Homo sapiens: one gene and its partners. The protein of the gene in region 5 purifies or fractionates together with the protein of the main gene of each other region. This does not show direct contact. Each region holds a gene or a part of one and is shown on either strand. Other genes may lie near its edges. The genes, in order: ZFHX4, BNC2, HOXC13, TFDP1, FOXP1, NFAT5 and MYL12B.

Region 1 (3,500 bases), on a different chromosome or scaffold from region 5:
GAAGACCTAAAGCAGCAGATTCAAACCCAACATCACGTTGGTCAAACTCAACTCCAGATACTACAGCAACAAGCACAACAATACCAAGCCACACAGCCCCAGCTGCAGCCTCAAAAACAACAGCAGCAGCCACCACCTCCACAGCAGCAGCAGCAACAGCAGGCAAGCAAATTATTGAAACAAGAGCAAAGTAACATAGTGAGTGCAGACTGCCAAATCATGAAGGATGTGCCATCTTATAAGGAGGCAGAAGATATTTCTGAAAAGCCAGAAAAACCAAAGCAGGAATTTATAAGTGAAGGTGAAGGACTCAAAGAAGGCAAAGACACAAAGAAGCAAAAATCCTTGGAACCATCCATCCCACCACCCCGAATAGCTTCAGGGGCCAGAGGAAATGCTGCCAAAGCGTTATTGGAAAACTTTGGTTTTGAACTGGTCATTCAGTATAACGAAAACAGGCAGAAGGTACAGAAGAAGGGCAAAAGTGGTGAAGGCGAAAACACTGACAAACTAGAATGTGGAACATGTGGTAAATTGTTTTCCAATGTTCTTATTTTAAAGAGTCACCAAGAACATGTACATGGGCAATTTTTTCCATATGCAGCGCTAGAAAAATTTGCTCGTCAATACAGGGAGGCCTATGACAAGCTTTATCCAATTTCTCCATCTTCTCCAGAAACGCCGCCCCCGCCACCTCCTCCTCCTCCCTTGCCTCCGGCTCCTCCACAGCCTTCTTCTATGGGTCCTGTAAAGATCCCCAACACGGTTTCTACTCCTCTGCAAGCTCCACCACCCACTCCTCCCCCACCACCACCACCTCCTCCTCCTCCTCCTCCTCCCCCCCCACCTCCTCCACCTTCTGCTCCTCCACAGGTCCAACTGCCGGTTTCTCTGGACCTGCCGCTCTTTCCTTCCATTATGATGCAACCTGTGCAACACCCTGCGCTTCCTCCCCAGCTTGCCCTGCAGCTGCCACAGATGGACGCACTCTCTGCAGACCTCACCCAACTTTGCCAGCAGCAGCTCGGATTAGATCCCAACTTCTTAAGACATTCTCAGTTCAAACGCCCACGGACAAGAATTACAGATGATCAGCTAAAAATCCTGAGGGCTTATTTTGACATTAATAATTCTCCAAGTGAAGAACAGATCCAGGAAATGGCAGAGAAATCTGGCCTCTCCCAAAAAGTTATCAAACACTGGTTTAGAAATACGCTTTTTAAGGAACGACAGAGAAATAAAGATTCACCATACAACTTCAGTAACCCTCCTATAACGGTTTTAGAAGATATCAGAATTGATCCACAGCCCACCTCTTTAGAACATTACAAATCTGATGCATCATTCAGTAAAAGGTCTTCTAGAACGAGATTTACTGACTACCAGCTTAGGGTTCTGCAAGACTTTTTTGACACAAACGCTTACCCAAAAGATGATGAAATAGAACAACTCTCCACTGTTCTCAATCTGCCTACCCGGGTTATTGTTGTATGGTTCCAGAATGCTCGTCAGAAAGCACGAAAGAGTTATGAGAATCAAGCAGAAACAAAAGATAATGAAAAAAGAGAACTCACTAATGAACGGTACATTCGAACAAGCAACATGCAGTACCAGTGTAAAAAGTGCAATGTGGTTTTCCCCAGGATCTTTGACTTGATTACGCATCAGAAAAAGCAGTGTTACAAGGATGAAGATGATGATGCCCAAGATGAAAGCCAAACAGAAGACTCCATGGATGCCACTGATCAAGTGGTATACAAGCATTGCACAGTGTCTGGCCAAACGGATGCAGCTAAAAACGCTGCTGCCCCTGCAGCAAGTTCTGGCTCTGGGACCAGCACCCCCCTGATTCCATCACCCAAACCAGAACCTGAGAAGACTTCTCCAAAACCTGAATATCCCGCAGAAAAGCCAAAGCAGAGTGACCCCTCTCCCCCTTCTCAAGGCACCAAACCAGCCCTGCCATTAGCATCGACTTCCTCGGACCCACCACAGGCATCCACAGCCCAGCCACAGCCACAGCCACAGCCACCAAAACAACCCCAACTTATCGGAAGACCTCCCTCGGCCTCTCAAACACCGGTCCCTTCCAGTCCACTGCAAATTTCCATGACGTCTCTCCAGAACAGTCTACCTCCACAGTTACTACAATACCAATGTGATCAGTGTACAGTTGCCTTCCCAACTCTGGAACTCTGGCAGGAACACCAGCACATGCACTTCCTTGCTGCTCAAAACCAATTCCTTCACTCTCCGTTCTTGGAAAGGCCCATGGACATGCCCTACATGATATTTGACCCCAACAATCCGCTGATGACTGGACAACTGCTGGGCAGTTCCCTCACTCAAATGCCCCCTCAGGCCAGTTCCTCCCACACCACAGCCCCCACAACGGTTGCTGCTTCCCTAAAAAGGAAACTAGACGATAAAGAAGATAATAATTGCAGTGAAAAAGAAGGAGGGAATAGCGGTGAAGACCAACACCGAGATAAACGCTTGAGAACCACGATCACCCCGGAACAGCTGGAAATACTCTATGAAAAATACTTGCTGGATTCCAATCCTACCAGAAAAATGCTTGATCATATTGCCCGCGAAGTCGGGCTGAAAAAAAGGGTCGTGCAAGTCTGGTTCCAGAATACACGAGCGCGGGAGAGGAAAGGCCAGTTCCGGGCGGTGGGTCCAGCACAGTCTCATAAACGGTGTCCGTTTTGCCGAGCCCTGTTTAAAGCAAAGTCGGCCTTAGAAAGCCACATTCGCTCTCGGCACTGGAATGAAGGAAAGCAGGCAGGTTACAGCTTGCCACCAAGCCCTTTAATATCCACCGAAGATGGGGGAGAAAGCCCACAGAAATACATCTATTTTGATTACCCATCTTTGCCATTAACTAAAATTGATCTATCAAGTGAGAATGAATTGGCTTCTACAGTGTCAACACCTGTTAGTAAAACAGCAGAGCTGTCACCGAAGAATCTTTTAAGCCCTTCTTCTTTTAAAGCAGAGTGTTCTGAGGATGTAGAGAATTTAAATGCCCCTCCTGCTGAGGCTGGGTATGATCAAAATAAAACCGATTTTGATGAGACTTCATCGATTAATACGGCAATCAGTGACGCCACCACCGGAGACGAGGGAAACACTGAAATGGAAAGCACCACAGGAAGTTCCGGAGATGTGAAACCGGCTTTGTCTCCCAAAGAGCCAAAAACTCTGGATACTCTGCCAAAACCTGCAACCACACCTACCACGGAGGTCTGCGATGACAAATTTCTCTTTTCTCTCACAAGCCCATCCATCCATTTCAATGACAAAGATGGCGACCACGACCAAAGCTTTTACATCACAGATGACCCGGATGACAACGCCGACCGCAGCGAAACGTCCAGCATAGCGGACCCGAGCTCCCCAAATCCATTCGGATCCAGCAATCCCTTTAAATCCAAAAGTAATGATCGGCCGGGTCACAAGCGTTTTCGAACGCAAATGAGCAATCTTCAACTCAA
Region 2 (3,500 bases), on a different chromosome or scaffold from region 5:
ATGCTAGAGGAAAATCAAAGGAGGAAAAGAGCAAAGGAAAATTAATAGGCTACATTATTTTTACATAGATTTTAAAACATATATATGACATCTATGAAATATCTTTTAATTATTCTCTAGATATGGAAAAAGATAAACTGCTAATAGATCCATTCATATATATGATTTAGTCAGTACTAAAAATAGTTATGTTAGTCACCAGAAATACTGCTTTTGTCCTCTGAAAGATTTGAAAAAAGAAAATAAGACTTTCCATTGCTGTCAAATGTATTCAATTTTCCCCTCAAATGAAGTTTGGATGAAAACAATGTGACTGACAAGCCCCGCACAGGCAAATCTTGGCAACCCTCAACTCTGTCTATCTCCTTGGCCTGTTAAGCAAAATTCCTTCACAAACTGTTGGTCTTTGCAATAACTCCTACAAAGCTCATTACTGCCAGCGTCGGCCTATCCCCCATGTTGTGCATTTATCCCTGGGATGCATATCAACATGTGGCACATGTCCTTGACATGCACAGAAGAGCTGCACCCCAGGACAGCAGCATGCACGACAATAGTCTCGACGCTTACTTCTTTACGGTTGCTGGGATGTAACCGAGAAATCTAATAACTGTGACAGTGGGGCCTTTCGGTTTTTCCTTGCCTTTCCAGACAGTGAAGCTGCACAGACACTAATGAAAGGTTAAATGAATAGGAATAGTTGACAAGAGGTACAATAAAGAAGGAGCTTGGTAATCCACAGACACTGAGCAGAGATCCTTGGCTCAAGCAGAGAAAGGACAGCACATCGTCGAGTCACAATATTTAAAACAGCTTGCTATACACAGAGGCTTTTGTGTCTGGGTACACGTCTGGCTTTGGACTGAAAAAAAAAAAAAAAAAGACACTGAAAAGGAATTTCAGCATGGGGCACTTTGGCAAATGTAAGGTCATTATAAGAGAAAAATGTTTTGTGTAGGTTGTTACATCTTTGTAATAAACACAAAAAAGCAGGGACTATGAACTCATGAACCACAAGTTCCAAGACAATACTGTACATTTTGACAACTATTAAATACTGTATCTAGAAGGCTGGCTTGATGCTATTCCCACTGGTAAGATACATACACAGTGAGTCATTTAGGAGTTTCACATTCTGCCTTCCTTATGGAAGAATTCCTGATACTCATCTTATTAGAGTTTTATAGTCAAGTTCTAGTCTTTAGTGAACGTAATTTGTTACAAATACAACCAAAACTCTCAAAGCCACCTTCTACTCATTGAAAAACTTCACAGCAGTTACTAGCAATTTGTGAAGTACCAGGCAAACTTTTTGTAATTGTAAGTGATTGCAACTGTGAAATGGCCTCAGCTAGAATTCTTAATTATCGAACCTATTATTTTTTGGTGCCCTTCTCACTATACCTCAAGGGAAGGTTGTATTCCTTAGGAAGTTTATTTTAAATTATAACAGCAAAACAATTTAAATCACCAAGAGAAAAATACTCTAGAATGTCAAAGAGAAAATAGAGCAAAAAGAACAAAACTGATATTGTTATGTACGGATATTTTTAAAGGAAAAAAGTTATGACGATAGCAAAAACTTAAAGAATGATATATCTGTAATATCATTCTTACGCATATTGAGTTAGAATATAGGTTCTTACGCATTGAGTTAGAATATGGGTTCGTAACAAATGGTAAAAGCATACTGAGAATATATTTCAAAACAAGGGAGGCTCTTTGAACAGCCAAATTAAATTATAGCTGAACTCTTGAGTGTACTGAGGGTTCTAATAAGCAACAAATAAAGACTTTTATTGGCTAGCAACATAATGAGAGCTACTGTGCAAAAGATTTTAAGAAGGACAAATCTGGGTAGTTTATCTCACTGGATTATATTATTTACTTAAATGATAAATATGTTTGTCTAAAGTAATGCTCCTAAAAACTAGTATATAAATATTAAAGTGCAATTATGATCAATGACTCTTTAACATAACTGTATCACAAATGTTAATGGAAAGTGGTAAATATGAAATTAAATGACAATTATTGAATGTAATATCATTTAAATCCTATTTCTTTAACTTATTTTTTGATCCATAATAAGTCAGGTTTATAAATAGTTTAACATTTATGCTTATAACAGGAAGCATTTATTTTAAAGAAAATTTCTCTCTGGAATACAGAAGTTGTATGTAGAACTACTCCAAAACCATCATTTACAGAAAAGGGGTTGTCCTTCATAAACTAAAAGAAGTTAACCCACTTCTCGGTGATTTCGTAGGAAGCTACTTTTAATAGAACTCTGAAGACTGGCCTCCTAAAACGAGAGTAACTCCCTCAGTTGACAAAAACTACAAACAGTAGTTAGTCAAACCAAAACATTTAAAATATAGTATCTGGTTGCATTTTGCCTGATCTTCAAATCACCTGAAAGGCAAAAGCCTAGAAAGCTTAGCTGACGCCTTGACTGTTCTTGTAGAAAGTTCTTTTGCTTCTGTCACTTTTAAAAAAAAAAAAAAAAAAAAAACCATAATAGCACCTCCCAGCCTCAACACTGAGCCAGTATTCATTACCTACTCTTTTTGTGCAACATTCTGATGGCCAGAGTGTTTTTTAAACCTTAAGTATATCTAATAAAATCATGAGGCTCCCTCTAGCTCTTCAGAGGGGATTTTACTAACCAATGATACTATATAATTCCCATCCAACAGGAAAGATTTGAGGAGGCTACCTCCCCTTCCACAAGAAATGTTTTCCACTCTGTTTCTTGTAAGGATGTAGATGGTAAATGAGACCATCTGCTGAGTAAATCAGAAAGCGTTGCTCCTTATATATTTATCAAGTTAAGAATCTATAAACTGCTTCCAACCTAAGCTTTATGTACAGAATTCTATAGTGAAACTTTAATCAGATTAAACCATACGACATAAATTTACCCATCCTGTCTAAAATTAATTTTAATGTCAAAAAACAACAACATGTATGAACATCCACAGAAATTCAAACTTGTGGTCTGGTCTCAGTTTTAAAAATCTACATTTAAATGCAGAATCTCAAAAATTCAGGAAAAAAACACTTCATGAACTGTATCTGTGGGGTTTATATAAAACAAAGATGCTAATAGTATAGAAAACATTTTCATGTACCATAGTATTTATACACAATACTAGTATAATGACTTTTTTATTGTTTAATCTTACCTGCAATTTAGTATTGGATATTTGGGGATCGTAGGTTGTTTAGAAGACTATAAATAATACAGTTGAAGTATGCCATCTTACAATAACCATAAAAGCCACATTGTCAACTGGCAAATCATCTCAAACAAGTGAATGTGAACAGTACTAAATTGAACTCCTCATATTCACTAAGGCCATCTTTCAAATACTTAAGGAATATTTAAAACCGTGCTGAACCCTTAACTGTAAAATTAAAAGTAAAGGAAACCACTAACTTCAAGTCATCATCTATTTTGGACTCCCTTAATATAAGAAATATTCCCAGGAACAACA
Region 3 (2,607 bases), on a different chromosome or scaffold from region 5:
CCCTGAAATATACAACAGAATGTCTTCCTCTGGCAACGGGGCAGAATATAAACTAATAAGGACCCAAGCGATCTAACTGCAGGAAGGAGGGATTTTTCTGAATATCTGAAATTCTGCAAGCATGGCAGGCCAGGCTGGAATTTGGAGGGTCCCTTCTAAATATACAAGGATCCTAATATTGAGTGCTGTGAAGAGCCATATTGGGGCCTGAAACAAAAGAAAATCAGTAATACCGAACCCATGTTTATTTTTTTAATTGATATTTTGTTCATCATGGATGTTTTTGTATTCGTTTTGCTTTTTTAAACATTGCATTAAAATATCGTCTTGATTACTGAGTTTTTGGCGCCCCCTCCCTTAAACTTCGAGCCCAGTGGCCTCATCATAGTTGTGGTCTTGCTAAAATAACAGAAATGAAAAGCATTAGGGAGCTTCACTATGCAGTGCAATCCTCTGGCCCCGTTGAGCCCCTGCCAGAACTCTGTGCCTAGGCAGCCTCGGGTCCTCTATCTCAGTCCAGCCGCTTGCCTCACTTCTTCCCGCTTGCCTTATCTCCCCGCAGACGTGGTTCCCCTGCAGCCCGAGGTGAGCAGCTACCGGCGCGGGCGCAAGAAACGCGTGCCCTACACTAAGGTGCAGCTGAAGGAGCTAGAGAAGGAATACGCGGCTAGCAAGTTCATCACCAAAGAGAAGCGCCGGCGCATCTCCGCCACCACGAACCTCTCTGAGCGCCAGGTAACCATCTGGTTCCAGAACCGGCGGGTCAAAGAGAAGAAGGTGGTCAGCAAATCGAAAGCGCCTCATCTCCACTCCACCTGACCACCCACCCGCTGCTTGCCCCATCTATTTATGTCTCCGCTTTGTACCATAACCGAACCCACGGAAAGACGCTGCGCGGGTGCAGAAGAGTATTTAATGTTAAGGAAAGAGAAGAACCGCGCCGCCCGGAGGCAGAGAGGCTCCATGGCCGTGCTGCTGGGCCATCCCCAACTCCCTATCCCATCCCCAGCCTCCACCCCCATCCAGATGGGACTCACGTGGCTTCAACAGCTTTGGAAATGGGTCCCGAGTGGGCCGTGCGAGGAAGGCTGTCGACCTCTACTCCTCCTTGCGCTCACCTTGCCAGAAAGTCTGGTGGCAGCGCAGAGCCCAATCATTCCAACCAAAGCAGGGTTGGGGAATCCCGAATGGCCCCAATTCTTGCCTCATCCTATGACCAGGCTTTTAGAGGACCTTCCCTAAGGGCGCAGCTTCGGAGCAGGATCTGTCCAGCTCATACTTTCCTTCGCTGTCCCTCCCGCACTCCTTAGGCAAGATTTCCCAGTAAAGATTTTCTGTGCGTATTTTAAAAGTCGTGTTAATACTCATGATAATTATTAGGGACCTGGCAGCGTGATTGGAGTATGGATGTTTCCGTAAAAGCTGGAATTCCGTAAAAGCATTGACGCAGCCCCTACACTCCATCCCAACCAAGAAACTGCATTTCCTGGGGCCAGGTGGGAGCTGCCTTTGCCCCACTGCCTCCCCTGTTCTGCTCTCTCAGTCAACATGTGGAAATCCAAGGAGGACAAAGACTCCAGCCACGCTGCTAAATAGGGCTCCTCTCTCCTCTCTCTCTCTCTAGGTGGTAAGGTTGGGGATTAGTCCAGGTACAGAAGCAGAACTTTTTTCTAAGGATAAACATCTCTTCCAAGGGGATGGAGAGTGGGTCCCTCAACAAAGTCCCTGTCCAGTCACCTTTCCATCAGGGCACTAGCCCAGGAATGACTCCTCACACTTTCACCTTTACTGATTTCCAGAGGAAAGCTAGAGGATCTAGTTCAAGAGGCAAGAAGATCTGGCCCTCAATTAGCTAGATGTAGATGCTGCCTAACAGTTCCCTCCTCAAAGGCCACCTTGGTGCTGTGGGGGCCCCTTGCCTCTTCCCTTCCCACTGGTGCATTACAAAACAGTGTTCTTTTGAAATGTTCATCAGGAATAGGCTTTTTTAAAAAATGTTGTGTATCTGTATATAGTATTGTGATGTCTGAATGACAATGTACTGAATGCAAAAAGGAAAAAAACCCACAAACATGTTTTTAAAATAAAATATCTTTTTTTGCCTTGATTTTATTGCTCAGATTCTTTCTGAAGTCTATTCTGTCCACTGGCTCTTCAGGACAGTCTACTATGCCCTGACTCAGCCAGAATGATCAGGGGGAGGAGTATAGACATTGCTCCCAGCTGGGTAGATTCCAAACCCTTGTTTTGCTCCACTTAAGTTTTTGGGTTATCTATACTATCTATATAGGAGAAAACTTTCCATCCTGATGTCCAACTCAGATGAGTGTTTGTTGAGGAAGGAAAGACGTAATTGGTGACTGAAAGGCCTGGAGGCAGTGACAAAAATACATTGATGGTTACTTCGGTTAATAATTGGGGCTCAGATCTGGTTCTGGGTACTGAGAAAGTAGCATCCCAGCTGGGAACTGGATGAGGTAAATGCGGCAGCCGGTGGCAGTGAGGAATTAACCTTAGGCTCCTGGTGCTCTATTGCCCCAGAGGGCCCCGAATACCTTCAGCCAGTTCAGGACTGGAGTTGGGGCTGGGATGGGGTCAGCACAGCCT
Region 4 (3,500 bases), on a different chromosome or scaffold from region 5:
CTCGTTGTAAGTCAGTTCCTCGTTGTAAGTCCACTCTTTGTGAGTAGGTTTGCTCCTGCCTGGAGGACAGCGGCACGGTGACGGCATCTGTTTTGGGGCCAAGATCCAGTGCCTTGCGTGGTCCTGGGATTCCTGGGGAAGGGAGTGGACCCATGAGGTGGGTTAGAATCGTGTGTGGGATTCTCCAGCCCCCTGTACCTGTGCGTGTGGTATGCGCGGAGCCAGCCAGCACTGCCTGGCGTGGAGCTGGCGGGTTCTCAGTCTGACATCAACTCCCGGAGAATGGCATCTGCTGAACTCAACGTAGGAAGCCGTGCGGGGCCAGCGCGCTCTCAGGCAGCCTGAGTGGCAGGGTCCTTTTGTCAGCTGTTTGGATCTCCCACGTGGCCCAGTGCCCCAGCAGCACACACACACACACACACACACACACGCGTATTGAACAAAACAAGTTTCACAGGACATTTATCCACGCCCAGGAGATTTATCTTTTGTATGGCTTCATTTTGCAGAAAATTCACTTGTTTGATTTCATGGCCTGGTGATCCACAGAAGGCCGCACTCTGATGAGTCTCTGATCATCGGAGAGATGAGTGTCAATGAAAAGATCAGTCCTTGAAATGTTTTTCTTCTCCGGAGCTGACAGGTGATCTGGCCTAGGGATAATTGGAAAGTGTCCCCGTCAGCTGCTCCCAGGGCCACCGCAGGTGATGCATTTATCCCCGTAAGAAGGGGAGCTGGGGGGGCCCAGCTTAGAGTAGCTCAGGGCATCGGCCACATGAAGCCCCCCCGCCAGCATACAGGTGTCCAGCTCCAATCCCTTTAACGGAAACTGCATGTCCATACAAGCAGTATAATCGCTGAGGCACTTTGATTTGTGGTGAATTGAATGATTTAACATTTACTGAGAAATAGTGTTTCCAGTTTAGATAGAGTCGTGCCACAAGATCTTTGAAAAGTCAGAGTTGTATTTGCCTGTATGAGGGTGTCCAGGTATTCACACTCGAACATTCATTGTTGGAACTAAAGTGGTAAGACCTTGTCAAGAGTCAGACCAGCCAGCATGTCCCTGAAGGGAGAGACAGTTGTTGACACCCTCAGGTGTGCTGTGGGGTGGGGCGGGTGGGTCAGTGTCCACACTGGCGTTGCCTCTGGTGGTTCCCCCCAGAGGGGCCCAGGTGTGTGAGCCCCAGGGGCGTGTGGAGCCCCTACCTTCCGCCCCCAGTGCTGGTGGCCCTCCCTCCTTGCCTGACGCCGTTGTGGGTGCAGGGGTTCCCCCAGACAGGGCCCCAGGGCACAGGGTTACCAGGTGATGGCTGTCACCCTGCTGGGCTGGAGGAGCAGCTGCTGTCACCCTGCCTGTGCTTTTGTCTTTTGAGAGCTGTTTTTGGTTTGTTTCAGGCCTCTTTTTAGTACCACAGAAGGATACAATTTCATCCTCATCCATATCACTAAAAGGAAGTAAAAGGGTGAAGGGAAAAATGGAAGCGTGCTCAAGTGCCCTGTGTGGAATTCTGTGCCGCCCCCTTCATTAAACTTGACCGTTAGCGCCTTGTGTGCGGTTTGGGGGTCACGCTCTGCCCTGTCCTGTTCTTGCTTGCTTGGGTCGTCCGAAGTTTCTTGTTGCTTTTGTCTAATTGGAGAAGATGCCTGTGACTGACAAGAGGAAGATGAGCCACATTCAGAACCGGTGGGGTGATGCCGTCACCGTGACAAAAGCGTCCACCGCTGGACGTTTTTCCTGCTCCGTCATGGCTGCTCACTGTGGTTAAGGAAATTCAGCAGTGGCTGCGGATAGCGAACAGATGGTGGGCATGGCACCCTCGCCGTGTGGGAGGGGACTGACTGTCTGAATTGTCTTTTTCGACTGTAGGTAATTGGTACGCCTCAGAGACCGGCAGCGTCAAACACCCTGGTGGTAGGAAGCCCACACACCCCCAGCACTCACTTTGCCTCTCAGAACCAGCCTTCCGACTCCTCACCTTGGTCTGCCGGGTGAGCACTTCCCTCTGGACCCTTAGAGTTGTAGGACTGCTTGCGGTTCGCACCTCCACGTTCTCCTGGGCCACGTGTGTCACACAGTCGTGCGATGGGGCTCCCACGCGCGTTGACGCCAGCCTCCGAATCACACTCACCCATCATCGTGGCCTGCACAGGTGTGCAGCCGAGGCGCACTGCCTCGGTCATGGAGAAGTCGGGCTGGGCACCGCCCACCCCGCTTTGTGTCTGGTGTAGTGGGTGCTCTCTGAAGGGCTGGCAGCTCTTGGCCAAGACGGGGAGAAGCTGGCCTCGTACTCGCCACAGGACCTCGGAGACTTTCCCTCGTCTGTGCTGGGAGCATGTGGGATGGATTTCACCCACTGCCCCTGAATTCAGCCTCTACTGCCCCTGGGGTTACGGCCCCCGCGGGTGGTCCCGCCAGAGCTGCTCCTTCCACTAAAGCAAGATCTGATGAGCTGTGTCTTTCCTTAAAAACACACACACGCAAAGCTGCAAAAGCCTGCCTGTGTTGGTGCCCAAAGCTTCACCAGCTAGGAACCTCAGGTGGCCTTTCCCGCCATGTGGGGACTGACCAGAGTGTACAGAGTTGGGCTTTCCCTCGACCTGAAGCACACTTAGTGCTTTGCACCTGTTGTCAAGCGGCTGTCACAGCCCAAGCTGTATGAAATTACAGCCTGCTGAAATTAGTCCTAAGAATTCCCAAATTTACACTGAAACGTCCCATAGTTCCTGATTCTGGCTGCCCTCTTTAGAAAAGTGGTGCTTGGGGCTCACGCCTGTAATCCTAGAGGCCGAGGCCAGCAGATCACGAGTTCAAGAGATTGAGACCATCCTGGCCAACGTGGTGCAACCCCGTCTCTATTAAAAATACAAAAAAATTAGCCAGATGTGGTGGCACGTGCCTGTAATCCCAGCTACTCGGGAGGCTGAGGCAGGAGAATCGCTTGAACCCAGGAGGTGGAGGTTGCAGTGAGCCGAGATGGCGCCACCGCACTCCAGCCCACGACAGAGCGAGACTCCGTCTCAAAAAAGAAAAAACAACAACAAAAAGAAAAGTGGTGCTTGGTGTACCGGCACATCTCCCATATGCTGATTTGGGTCCTGGGGACGCCTCCCGTTTTCCCTGACGCTTGGAAGGTTAGAGGTGCAGCCTGCTGGGGAGACACTCGCTTTCTGACCTGCAGGACCACTGGGCCTGGGGGCTGGGGCTAGGGGGTCCTGGCCTGCTCACGTGTTGGATCTGCTGCGCCCGTGGGACGTGGCCCCTTTTTGTGCAGCTCATTAGAGCTCTCAGGTAAAAGCATTCCTCGATTCAGGCTGATCCTCAGGAGGGCTGACAGTCGCTTCTCTTTTCCTTTGTATTTTGAAGGAAGCGCAACAGGAAAGGAGAGAAGAATGGCAAGGGCCTACGGCATTTCTCCATGAAGGTCTGCGAGAAGGTGCAGAGGAAAGGGACCACTTCCTACAACGAAGTGGCAGACGAGCTGGTTGCGGAGTTCAGT
Region 5 (3,500 bases):
TTATGGACATAGATGTTATCTGAAGATGCCCCACCCCTCCTTCCCAAGGCTCAATCAACTAGCTTCTTTCCAAATAATTAAATGGGGCAAACTTTCTATTAGAAAATATCTACCATACATCACTAAAAAAAGGTCTGTCATTGATTCCCTAATGAAATATCAGTTAATTACTTAACCTTTCTTAATGAAATGATTAACATTTCAACAAACAAGGCGGAATGACTTCGCATCAAGCTGTAGATTACCAGTGACAGTGGTAACTATGTGTCCTCTACCATTGCGCCGTCTATTCTTTCAATCAGCTCCATGTTTCATCTTTTATAGAAATTCTTTATGCAGTAGTAGAGACACTCTACTTTTAAAATTTGGCCCATAAGAGTTTTTTTTAAGTGCCTCAGGGTCAGAACAGAAATTTTAAAAGTTTTTATTAGACGAATATCCCCAATGCTACCTAAACCTACAGAAAAGCAAACTGTGAAGTTCTAAACGTAAAAACAATTGCCAACTTTTTGGCAGCTATTAAAATAAAGCCACACCTAAAGCCAAAATGGAAATTAAAAATTAGGTGTGGGCATTATGGACACATTATTACCGGGTAACTTCAAAAGCCACATTATTAATACAGATGAAAAAATGTCTCAACAACTTTTATTTAAATAACTCTTTTGATCTTAGTGGTTAGATCTTTAGTTGAAGCCCTGAATATTTAAATAAGCCTCCTTAACATTTTATCTTCCTTTATTTCATAATCTTGTAGGATGCCTTCTTCTTAGGATTCTGGTTTCTTTATTTGTGTGGCATCGTTGGCTAGGCTATTTCCATCAATATTCGTGCATGCCCCATCACATACGATAGAGAATTTCCCAAGATGCTTGGGAAAATCAAAATACTTCTGCCAGCAGGGTTAATCCAAAGAGCAAACAGTTACAATTTTAAAATTAAGATGGAATACTCAGAAAAAAAAATTCTAGAGAGTCATCTGACACTAATTGGTAGCTACAGCATGACAACACCCATTGGGAAACATGGATGCAGGCAAGACAAAATTCAAAAGGAAATTATCTGATATTGACATTTGGTGAAAACCACCGATGTTCCAGGTTGTTCCTATCACGTTATTGAACTGTGAGGCTCTTGTTCTGCCTCTGTTTCTCTAAGTCTCCAAGGTTTCTTTTTGTGCCCTCCTGAAAAAGGAGCTCCGTTTTCTTCTCTTAGGTTTCACAATGGCCAACCAATTCAATTAAACTCTTAAGAAGGGTTGCAGGCTTTCCTCCAACTCTGATAATTGACAGGTCCAGTTTTCCCACTTTGGTGGGCATCAGGACCATGTGGGATGCGATTTAAAAACACAGATGCTGGCCCCACCCCAGATACGGCACATCCAGGAGTCGTGCAACTGTGTCTGTGTTGGGAACAACAGCTCTGCTGTGATTCCAATACTCGTGCTTGGTTAAAAACCACCGTTTTTCATTCGTAATAAAAATCCAAATACATTAAAAACAACACAGGATGGGCCTCAAGGTAAAATCAAAGAAATCATCAGTAAAATCCAAGTGAAGATAGAGATTTCAGTTCCACACATCTGAAAGAATAAATCACTTGATTCACAGGTCTCTAGCATGCATCAGAATTATCAAGGGAAGTTTGTTATAAATGTACGTTACCATGTCAATCAGCAAAAATTCTGACTCAAGGATCTGTATTTTAATAACCTACACACACACACATACACACACACACACACAGATACAGAGGTAGGTGAGCGAGGACCTCACTTTGAACCAGGCTGAATTAGGACCAACTGCAACCTCCCTTCACTTCAGACATGAGCATTCACTTCCATCTCTGTGCTCACCCCCAGGAGGGGAAGCCACCAGTGCCACTGGTCATCAGGAGGTAGGCACCAGGGCAAAAGAAACTCAAGCAAAACTCACATCACACCCTCCCCCAACAAAAGCTGCGGTCACTGTCCTGAGAGCACCAAGAATATCTTTTAAAAATGTGAGTAATAACAAAGCCCTGTATCATTGGATCCCTAAGCTCAAAGAACATATGTTAAAATATTACCCCTAATTCAAAAGCAGGGAACCTGGAGCAGAGAAAGTCACATTATGACTCAATTGCACAGCTGGGAGGGAGAAAGGACACCTCGGAAATTCAGTTTGATGCTAGAAATATTCTTCAGTGTCCTAGTAAACAAAGTGAATCACAAAATTAGCTAAAATCAGAGCATCTGGTAAAATGTGGATGTCCACCTGACTTACAAGTAATAAATAAATATATGTCCAAACATAAAACTCAGAGAAAATGTTTGTCCTAAGCAAATCTATTCTATTGAACATAAACAAGGCCCAATAATCCCACATTCAGATCCATTTTTCCCTCAGTAAATTGTCCTATAACATGCTAGCCTCTGATATCTTCAAACTGTTGAAATCAAACAGAATGACATGGGCTTTCTATTCAATGATCCCATTTCAGCTATTTATCTGAATTAGCAGCAGTTTGAGGAAATACACTCATCACAACATGATTCTGAGTATAGAGAAGTAAATAGTAAACAGAACACTGGAACACAACTGTGTATGTATTCATATTCCTTTTTAAAAAAAAAACTATTTTATTAAAAATACAATTTGGAAGGAAAGTGCAATTAGCTTTGCACAGGCACTGCTGAGATGTTCCCGAACACAGCAGACATATGTAAATATTTCGTGATATCAGTTCCATTTGAGTAGACCTGTCAAGATATTTACAGGGCTTGACAGTACTTCTGTCTTTAATTAAATTTTTGCCCAGATACTTTAATATAATTTAAATAGATTATTAGTTGTCAGAATCGAATATAAATTTTGTTTACGATTTAGTTACTTTAAGTACTCAGACTGAAGGAACTAATTTAACCCTACAACTGAGCAGCTTTAAGCATCAAGGCCAAACCACTAGAAAGCTCCCACTGCCCTTTGCACTCTACCAATAACCTTAAATTATTACAACTGAATTGTAAATTTCATGGCACTAAACTGAGCCCCCCTCCCCTCCTTTTGAAATAAAACAGCTTGGGGAGGGTCATGAGGAAACACCCATTTACACCTGTTCAGGTACTAGGTAGGTTCTCCCTTTCAGGCACTCGTTCTCACAGCGGCTGGCTAGATAGGAAACATTTTTTTCTCACTCTAAGTCCCATAAAATAACTACCGAACAAACACCTGTTGTGTACAAGGCAGGGCATGTATTAAAGACTGGCATCAGGGCATTGCAAAAAGAAAAACAAGCCTTGCAGAGACATCCACAAGCCAATCTGGTCAATAGATTTCACGACTGGGTAAAACAACAGTGCGTGCGAAGAACACAGCTTCTGGCACAACCTTCTTGTGAATGGCAGCTGACTTCTAAACAAGGATTGAAAAATGCCTTAGCACAAACTGACTGTAATTAATAAGAATAATTTATTAAAGAAACAAAGAACACTGTCTAATTGTCTTTCCTGACTGCCATGC
Region 6 (4,281 bases), on a different chromosome or scaffold from region 5:
GGGTGGCTCTGAAAAGCTTTCTGAACCTCCGACAAAAGAAAAATGTTCACAGGATTGATTACTACACACAATTCAGTGAAGACAACTGGGCAACCTGAATCAAATGTTGAGATGAAAGATAGGTGAGCTCTGATGACACACGTTTAAATTCTAGGTCTACAGGTAAAACTTTGTAAAGGGCCTTGCCTCAGCGACATCTGTACTGGGCCCTCCTTTGCTGAGAGCTTCTTACCCCAACCCTAGCACTCCAAGTCCCGAGAACTGCTCAATTTCATGGGAAAAAGTCTCTATAATTATATATATATGTATATATGTGTGTATATATGTATGTATATATATGTGTGCATATATATACACATACACATATTACAACAGACTGATTTTCATGAGTTGTAACTATCCTTGTAGATAAAAAACGAAACCATTCGAATAGCTTAAAAACCATGCCCACGTGGCTACTGGCATCAATATTCCACACAAGATTAAAATTACTTCCCAAGATGCACACCCTGCACTCCAGGTAATATTTCAATAACTTGATTAAAAATTTCTCAGAAGTCTATTAGAATCAGAAAACGCTCTGCGGTGTGGGTGAGGATTTTAAATTTTTGCAACGGAAACTTTTGGCTCCACGAACAGAAAAGCAAGAGCAAAAACTCAGTTAAATGCGTTCTTCCTCCATCTTTGCCTAGTCCAAAAGGAAAAAAAAAGAAACAGAAAAAAGAAAAACTGTTTGGAAGAGTAGCGTTGAGGTTTGCTTTTTACCTGTTTTTCCTCTAGAACAGCCAGGTGGATTCACATGATCCAATTTTTTAATTGTCTTCTATGTCCCACTCCGAATAACCCGGATGCCCCAGCACAATCAGAGAGATCGTTTTTTTTAAAAAAAATTTCAGCCTCCAAAGGTAGGAGGGGAGTGTTAGGGGAGAAAGTACTTTAATTAAAAATCAATAACTCGAGGTTTTTGGGATACGGTTTGCCATTTCCTAATTAAGAAATGGGTTTGACAGTCCCTTTGTACACACTGCTATGCAAACCCCAAAGGGTTGGCGGCTGTCCGGGCGATGACACTCCGGTCCCCTGCGAGACCCCGGGCCAGCCAGGCCCGTCCGCCGCCGGCCTCTGGGGTCCGTCCCCGGCTCGCGCAGACCTCTCGCTTCTCTCGGCTCTGTCTCCTGCGCTCAGCTCTGCTCGGGGCCGGCCGCCTCAGGCTCGCCGCCACCAGGTCGTTGCAAATACCTTTTCCCTCCCCGGGGCCCCAGCGCGCGGCCACCTCCCAGCCTCCCCCCCTCCCACCCTGGCAGCGGGGCCCTTTCCCGGCTCAGGAACAGCAGCAGCCCGGGCCGCGCCGGCAGGAAGCGAGGCCCATGTTGCTGCTGTTCCCTGGCGCGCCTCCCCGCCCTCCGGGGGCCGCCACGGCTCTTCCGCGCTCCCGGGCACCCCCCTCCGCGCCTGCGCTGTGCCCCACGGGGGCGGGGCTCAGATTCCTGTCAGCGGCGGCGGCGGTGGCGGCGACCGTCAGTTTTCGCTGAGGAGAAACACGAAACGGACCCTTTGGCTCTCCCCCTTCCCCTTCCCCGTCCTGAACCCCTCTCCTGGTCACCGAGAATCAGTCCCCGTGGAGTTCCCCCTCCACCTCGCCATCGTTTCCTCGGTCCTCGGCCCAGTGGAAGTCACTACCCTCGAGGAGGAGGCAGCGGCAGCCGCCCTCGCGTCGCCGCCCCCGGTTCGGTGCCCGCGGTCCCGGAGAGGAGGTGCCGCCGCCACCGCCGCTCCCCCCCTCCCGCTGCCCTCGGGCCGGGCTGGGTCGAGCTGCGATGCCCTCGGACTTCATCTCATTGCTCAGCGCGGACCTAGACCTGGAATCGCCCAAGTCCCTCTACTCGCGAGGTGAGTCAGGCTGTGGGGGGTGGGGCGTGGGGGCGGGGAGACAGGGAGACAGGGAGACAGGGCCAGGGGAGGCGAGGGGTCCCCGTCCCGCCGGGGGCGGCTGAGCCGCGACCCCCATGGCTTCTTTGGCCGGAGCGGGCAGAGGCCGAAGGGATCGGGGTGACGGTGGAGGGGGCGGGCGGAGCAGTGGCGGCCCCTCCCCCGCGGAGCCGCCGGCCGCTCGGGGCCCAGATTCCGTCGGCCCCCGGGGCTCTGCGGCACCGGTCGCTTCTAGCCGCTCTCAGCCCGTCCGGCCCCGCCAGGCTCCGCGAGCCGCCGGCCCCGGCCTCCCGGGCTCGGGGATGGCCCCAGACTGGGCCCCGCGCTGGGGCCACCGCGATCGGGGCGCCGCGTCTTCTCTTACCGGGACCCTCCTCCCCAGCAAAGTTGCCCCCAAGCGGGCGGCGTGGCCTGGAGCCGGTTCTGAGTGCAGGGTCACCATTTTCCTCCCTTTCCAGCTTGTTTTTGCGCCGTCGTTCCACCCCCTCTCCCTCCGGCCTAGTCCACTCCCTCCCCATGTTGGGACAGCCCCCCTCGACCAGGCGTTCTTCCTTTCCTCGTCATCTTCTTGCTGGAAAGGGCCCGATGGAAAGGGCCCGAATTTTCTTTTCTTTTTTTTTCTCTTCCCACCTCCGTGGCATTCTAATTACTTCTCCCTTCTCCTTTACAAAGATGGGGGTGCCCTCTCTGGATTGGTTTTATTCCTCTCCTCTCCCAGGAGGACCAGCCCAGGCACAGACGCTGTCCTTTGAGAATTTTCTCTGCTTTTCCGTTCAAGGGCTGGTTGCAGGGAGGGAGCTCAGGCAGAGACTTTTCATTTAAGAACTCTTTTGGCTAAGGCCTGCAGGGGATTCCCAGCATCTGAAATATTAGCACTGGAGCTGATCCCTACTCAGGTGAAATTCCTTTACTGGACACCACAAGAATGTGTCAGAACAGGTTCCCTGTGCAAGGGGCTTCAAAACCAAAATATTCCCACTGCGCTCTTTACGCTTTTTAAACCACCGGGAGGGGGCAAAAGACATAACTGGGTTGTTAACTATTCATTTCACCGTGTAAAAAAAAATGTAGGTGTTTCTTCTGCTTTTGGTTTGATGTATCCATCCATTTGCTTATTCCACCCCCTCCAAAAAAGGGACTTCACCTTCCTACTAGTGTATCTAAATTGTTTAAGTGAATCAGAGTGAGATGGTTTACTCTGAAAGGTGCTGGACTTTACAGACTGACCATTGATTTTGTACACAGAGTCCTACTTAGTAATTGTAGCCACTGTCTGTTGCTCCAATGACTTTAGTTGGCAGCCACCATCCTGTAGGATGTTTTTCGGGCAACATTACCTGAGGTACTTTAGAAATATTGTAGTTTTGAATGTCAAAAAAAAAAGAGACATATCAAGAGATGATTCTTAGAGCAGGGCTAATGTGTTAGAATTGAGTGCTAAAAATAGCCAAGACATTAACACCATTTGGGGAGTAATCATCAGATAATTTTCCATGAAACATATACTTTATGAAAATCTAAGTTTAGCTTCGAGACCAATGTAGAGACAATTCAGCCTCTTTTGCGGGGAATATATTCACAAATATGGGCTTTAGCGCTTAAAAATACACTGCAGTTGGCCGGGCGCAGTGGCTCACGCCTGTATTCCCAGTACTGTGGGAGGCCGAGGCAGTTGGATCACCTGAGGTCGGGAGTTTGAGACCAGCCTGACCAATTTGGAGAAACCCCGTCACCCCGTCACTACTAAAAATACAAAATTAGCCGGGCGTGGTGGTGCATGCCTGTAATCCCAGCTACTCGGGAGGCTGAGGCACGAGAACCACTTGAATCCGGGAGGCGGAGGTTGCGGTGAGCCGAGATCGCACCATTGCACTCCAGCCTGGGCAAAAAGAACGAAACTCCGTTTCAAAATGTATGTGTGTATATATATATATGTGTGTGTGTGTGTGTGTGTGTGTGTGTGTATATATATATATATATACACACACACACATTGCAGTTATATAAGAGATGTATGCTATCCTTGGCATTTTTTTCCTCATTCAGCATAAAAAGTACCTAATGCTTTTTGTGTTTTTCAGATTCTCTGAAGTTACACCCATCACAGAATTTTCATAGAGCTGGACTATTGGAAGGTCAGCAAAGTACCATTTTAAAGCATATTGTGTTAGTATGCAAAGGCTTTCTCTGAAATGGAGTTTAAATGGGAAAGTATGAAACTTTGCAAACTCACACAATGTAGTTTTCTCCTAAAGAGTCTGATCCTTCTTTTAGAGCAGCTGAATGTTTCAATGGGTTTTGTTGCTGCGTTTGATGTGCTTGTTGGCTGTTCTATCTGCTTTGAGAAACATT
Region 7 (3,500 bases), on a different chromosome or scaffold from region 5:
TTGAATTTAGAGGATTGTAGGTGCTCAGAAATCAGTGTTGAATTATATTGGTGGCATTGCAAGTTTTAAAAAATTTTGTGCTGAACTCAAAATAATTAGAAGAGTATTTAGTAGGAAGTAGAAAATATACAAGGAGAAACAACCTGTAACAAATGGGATTTGAATCCTAGCTCTGCCACTAGGTGACCTTGGGCAAGATTATTTAATATCTTTGACCTTCAGTTTCTTCATTTGGCAGGTGGGCATGTTTCATTTAATGTACATAATGTTTCTAGCACATGAGTCACTTAATAAATGGTAGTAGCTGTAAGTTGAGTAGATCTTTAATTCTCTCTCTGTTCCTAAGGCAGAGAAGTAGATCAGGGCAACTGGGGCTGGAAAAATAGCAGGAACAAAGATATACAAGATAAGATGTGGCATGGTACCTTGGGGACATTTGCAGTTTGGTGTTGCTAAAGGAAAAGTACAAAGCAGGGAATGGCTAGAGAGGAGGCTGGAAAGGTCATTCTAGAGTAGGGAAAGGAAGACTCATGCACCATGTTTAGGAACTTGGTACTTTATCCTTTAGAAAGTGGAGAGCCAAAGAAGATTTTAAAAAGTGGAATGATGAGGTCATATTCATGTTTTAGACAGCCCTGCCTAGAAAACTAAGGGTAGTTTTGAGAGAGCCGAGAGGCAAGGGGATAGTGAAGAGGCCATAGAGATATTTTACACAAGAGATAATGAGGATCCAGTTTAGGGTGATGACAGAGGAATGAGGAAGATGAGCAACTCTGAGAAATATTTCTCAGAGGCAGGGCTTGGTTCATCAGGGAGAGGGATTGGGGAGGGTGACTCCTAGGTTTCTGGCTGCTGGGTAGATGATTGGAAACAAAGATGGTAAAGTTCAGGAGGGGAGAGATAATTGAGTTTTCAGCATGTTGATTATGAGTGTCTGTGGCATATCCAGATGGGTGCCTTTCACAGGCATTTGGATGTTTGAGTCCAAGGCTCCAAGGAAAGGTCAGGCCTGGAGGTTCGGATTTAGGAGGTGCAGGCATTGTCATAACAGTGAAAGTTGATGAGATCATCCAAGGAATGAAGACTGAAAAGAACTTTAAACCATGTGCTGCTAGAATACTGGGAAACATGAATATTTAAACGGAGATAAACATCTAAGAGGAAAATGGAGGAGGAAATCTTAGAAATAGGAGAACTGAGCTAGAGTAAGTCAAATACACCATTTTACATAATCAGTCTTTCCAATATAATGCTTAGCAGTCTTCCTGATTAGAGCGTAAGTTCTTCAAGGTTGGGACCCTTTCCACCTGGGAAAGTTCATTTCTACTGTTATGGAGCACCAGGCTAACAGTGGCTGTCTCTCCAAAGAAAAGAGGGATAAAATAGTGTGATGCAGTAGACTGATCCAAGAAGATTTAGACCAGATTTGGCAATTAAAGCAGTTGCAGTAGAGAACAGAAAGCCAGATTGTGGTGGGTTGAAAAGTGAGTGGGAAGTGAGAAGGTGGAGGAAGCCAAGATACTTATTTCAGAAGGGAAGGAGAGAGGGTGGTAATTTCTTTGGGGGCCAGAGTTCCCTTCAGATTGATTATTTTGATGCAACTTTGCCTCACTTTTCAGCTGATACTGTATGTGTAGTTTTTATAGGTACCATATACGTATACAAATGTACCACTGTTTTTAAATGAAGTATGAAAAAAATTTAAAATATAGTATTACTACATTGAGCCTATATCTGCTCTAACATATTTTGATTGGGACCAGTTAGTGAATTGTTTTTTGTTCTCTTCCATCAACTTGCCTTCTGTTTCCTTCTCTTGGGTGTCACCATCAGATGGTGATGGCTCTTCTAGTTATCAGGCTAACTAACTCCCTATTCTTTCTCACAGGCATTTCCCCTAATAAAATCCTTGGGTGTTTCATTCTGTCTTGGTATCAGCTTCTTAGAGAACTCGGACTAAACTTCAAAAATGTTTAAATATAGTATATTTTTGGGTTAACTGTAGAAGTAGCATGATACAATTGACTGATTCTGATTTGATTTGATTTGATTTTTTGAGACAGTGTCTCGTTTTGTCACCCAGGCTGAGGTTAGGGGCACCATTACGGTTCACCAGCCTCGACCTCCCAGGCTCAAATGATCCTTCCACCCCAGCCTCCCAAATAGTAGCTGGGACCACAGGCATGTGCCACCACACCTGGCTAATTTTTTAAATTTTTTGTAGGGACAGAGTATCACTTTGTTGCCCAGGCCTATCTCAAATTCCTGGGCTCAAGCAGTCTTCTGGCCTCAGCCTCCCAAAGTGTTGAGATTATAGGTGTGAGCCACCGCACCCGGCCTGATTCGTTTTTAAAAATAAATATTTAACTCTTTTGGAACTTTTTCTAAATAACTCGATTACAAAAATTACTTGCTGATACTGAGAGAGAACTAATAATTTTTGCCTTCAGATGTATTTGACTAATCTTGAAGAAATTGAGTCAAAATTTTTAGCATGAGAATGAACCTTAATCTAAGTTTTGGTATGTGAAGAAGAATGAAAACATAATCAAATGCCTTGTTAGTAGACTACATTCTGTCTCTGATTTAACCTTCGATATAACTAAGGTCAAATAACAAACTAAGTTACAAGGAAGAGAAGAAAATTAACATTTATTTAGGACTTGTATATGGGGAGGGTAAGGAGTTGGAATGTTAGAGTAAGGACTGTAAGGCTGGTGTACTTCAAAACAACACCACTAAGCCAAGCTTCAAAACACCCTGTGGGATGTTCTTTAGCTTGAATAAATAGAAGTAGACAATACATTTATATAAAAAATCCCAATACCAGAAGTCCTGGAGACTTAGGTCCAAAATCCCCTTGCTCAGTCATTGACCTCTCTAGTCATTTGTTTTTCACATTGCAGGAAGTTACGGAAACAGTCTGCAAGACCATCATTTCTGACAGCAGTTTCAAGTTTGGATGTCCTAAGACCACCCTTGCGTTTGATTATTTGCTAAGACTCACAGAACTCACTGAAAGCTGTTAGGCTCACAGATACATAGGTTTTCAGAGGTTATATGTAGCTAGTAACGGTGGAGCTGAGATTTGAACTCAGGACTTCCTAACTCCAGAGCTGATGGTATTTTTGTGTTTTATTTATTATTTAAAACTGCAAATTAAAAATGAAATGACAAGTGCCTTTTCTGCTTGACATTTAAATTATTGGTGGCTTTCAGTAGAGTGTTGGAAGCTACTACCAAAGCCATATTACGGAGAATGGAGGAATGATTGGGAAGAAGAGAAAAGGGGCTGGGCACGGTGGCTCATGTCTGTAATCCCAGCAGTTTGGGAGGATCTCGAGCCTCAGAGTTCAAGATCAGACTGGGCAATATAGTGAGAAACCCCCCATCTCTAAAATAAAAAACAGAAGGAAAAATGAAGACAGTTCAGCATTAGACTGGTATTCTGAAAGTCTTGTCAAGGGAAAAGGGAAATGCAGGGATAGCTAGAAAGATGA

The links.
Region 1: the proteins of FOXP1 (region 5) and ZFHX4 purify together in Homo sapiens (affinity purification with mass spectrometry, with the first as the bait; one study listed by BioGRID). This does not show direct contact.
Region 2: the proteins of FOXP1 (region 5) and BNC2 purify together in Homo sapiens (affinity purification with mass spectrometry, with the first as the bait; one study listed by BioGRID). This does not show direct contact.
Region 3: the proteins of FOXP1 (region 5) and HOXC13 purify together in Homo sapiens (tandem affinity purification; one large-scale study listed by IntAct). This does not show direct contact.
Region 4: the proteins of FOXP1 (region 5) and TFDP1 purify together in Homo sapiens (affinity purification with mass spectrometry, with the first as the bait; one study listed by BioGRID). This does not show direct contact.
Region 6: the proteins of FOXP1 (region 5) and NFAT5 purify together in Homo sapiens (affinity purification with mass spectrometry, with the first as the bait; one study listed by BioGRID). This does not show direct contact.
Region 7: the proteins of FOXP1 (region 5) and MYL12B purify together in Homo sapiens (affinity purification with mass spectrometry; one large-scale study listed by BioGRID and IntAct). This does not show direct contact.

What each region holds. Positions count from the first base shown.
Region 1 is NC_000008.11:76,852,247-76,855,746, forward strand, and holds part of ZFHX4 (zinc finger homeobox protein 4), read left to right. Parts: coding exon 1-3,500. UniProt on the Homo sapiens protein: May play a role in neural and muscle differentiation. May be involved in transcriptional regulation.
Region 2 is NC_000009.12:16,864,171-16,867,670, forward strand, and holds part of BNC2 (zinc finger protein basonuclin-2), read right to left. Parts: intron 1-3,500. UniProt on the Homo sapiens protein: Probable transcription factor specific for skin keratinocytes. May play a role in the differentiation of spermatozoa and oocytes. May also play an important role in early urinary-tract development.
Region 3 is NC_000012.12:53,944,438-53,947,044, forward strand, and holds the end of HOXC13 (homeobox protein Hox-C13), read left to right. Parts: intron 1-562; coding exon 563-819; 3' UTR 820-2,107; downstream 2,108-2,607. UniProt on the Homo sapiens protein: Transcription factor which plays a role in hair follicle differentiation. Regulates FOXQ1 expression and that of other hair-specific genes.
Region 4 is NC_000013.11:113,629,753-113,633,252, forward strand, and holds part of TFDP1 (transcription factor Dp-1), read left to right. Parts: exon of another isoform or gene 1-1,550; intron 1,551-1,870; coding exon 1,871-1,992; intron 1,993-3,367; coding exon 3,368-3,500. UniProt on the Homo sapiens protein: Can stimulate E2F-dependent transcription.
Region 5 is NC_000003.12:71,573,729-71,577,228, forward strand, and holds part of FOXP1 (forkhead box protein P1), read right to left. Parts: intron 1-3,500. UniProt on the Homo sapiens protein: Transcriptional repressor. Can act with CTBP1 to synergistically repress transcription but CTPBP1 is not essential. Plays an important role in the specification and differentiation of lung epithelium.
Region 6 is NC_000016.10:69,564,485-69,568,765, forward strand, and holds the start of NFAT5 (nuclear factor of activated T-cells 5), read left to right. Parts: upstream 1-1,481; 5' UTR 1,482-1,817; coding exon 1,818-1,890; intron 1,891-4,010; coding exon 4,011-4,064; intron 4,065-4,281. UniProt on the Homo sapiens protein: Transcription factor involved, among others, in the transcriptional regulation of osmoprotective and inflammatory genes. Binds the DNA consensus sequence 5'-[ACT][AG]TGGAAA[CAT]A[TA][ATC][CA][ATG][GT][GAC][CG][CT]-3'.
Region 7 is NC_000018.10:3,268,633-3,272,132, forward strand, and holds part of MYL12B (myosin regulatory light chain 12B), read left to right. Parts: intron 1-3,500. UniProt on the Homo sapiens protein: Myosin regulatory subunit that plays an important role in regulation of both smooth muscle and nonmuscle cell contractile activity via its phosphorylation. Phosphorylation triggers actin polymerization in vascular smooth muscle.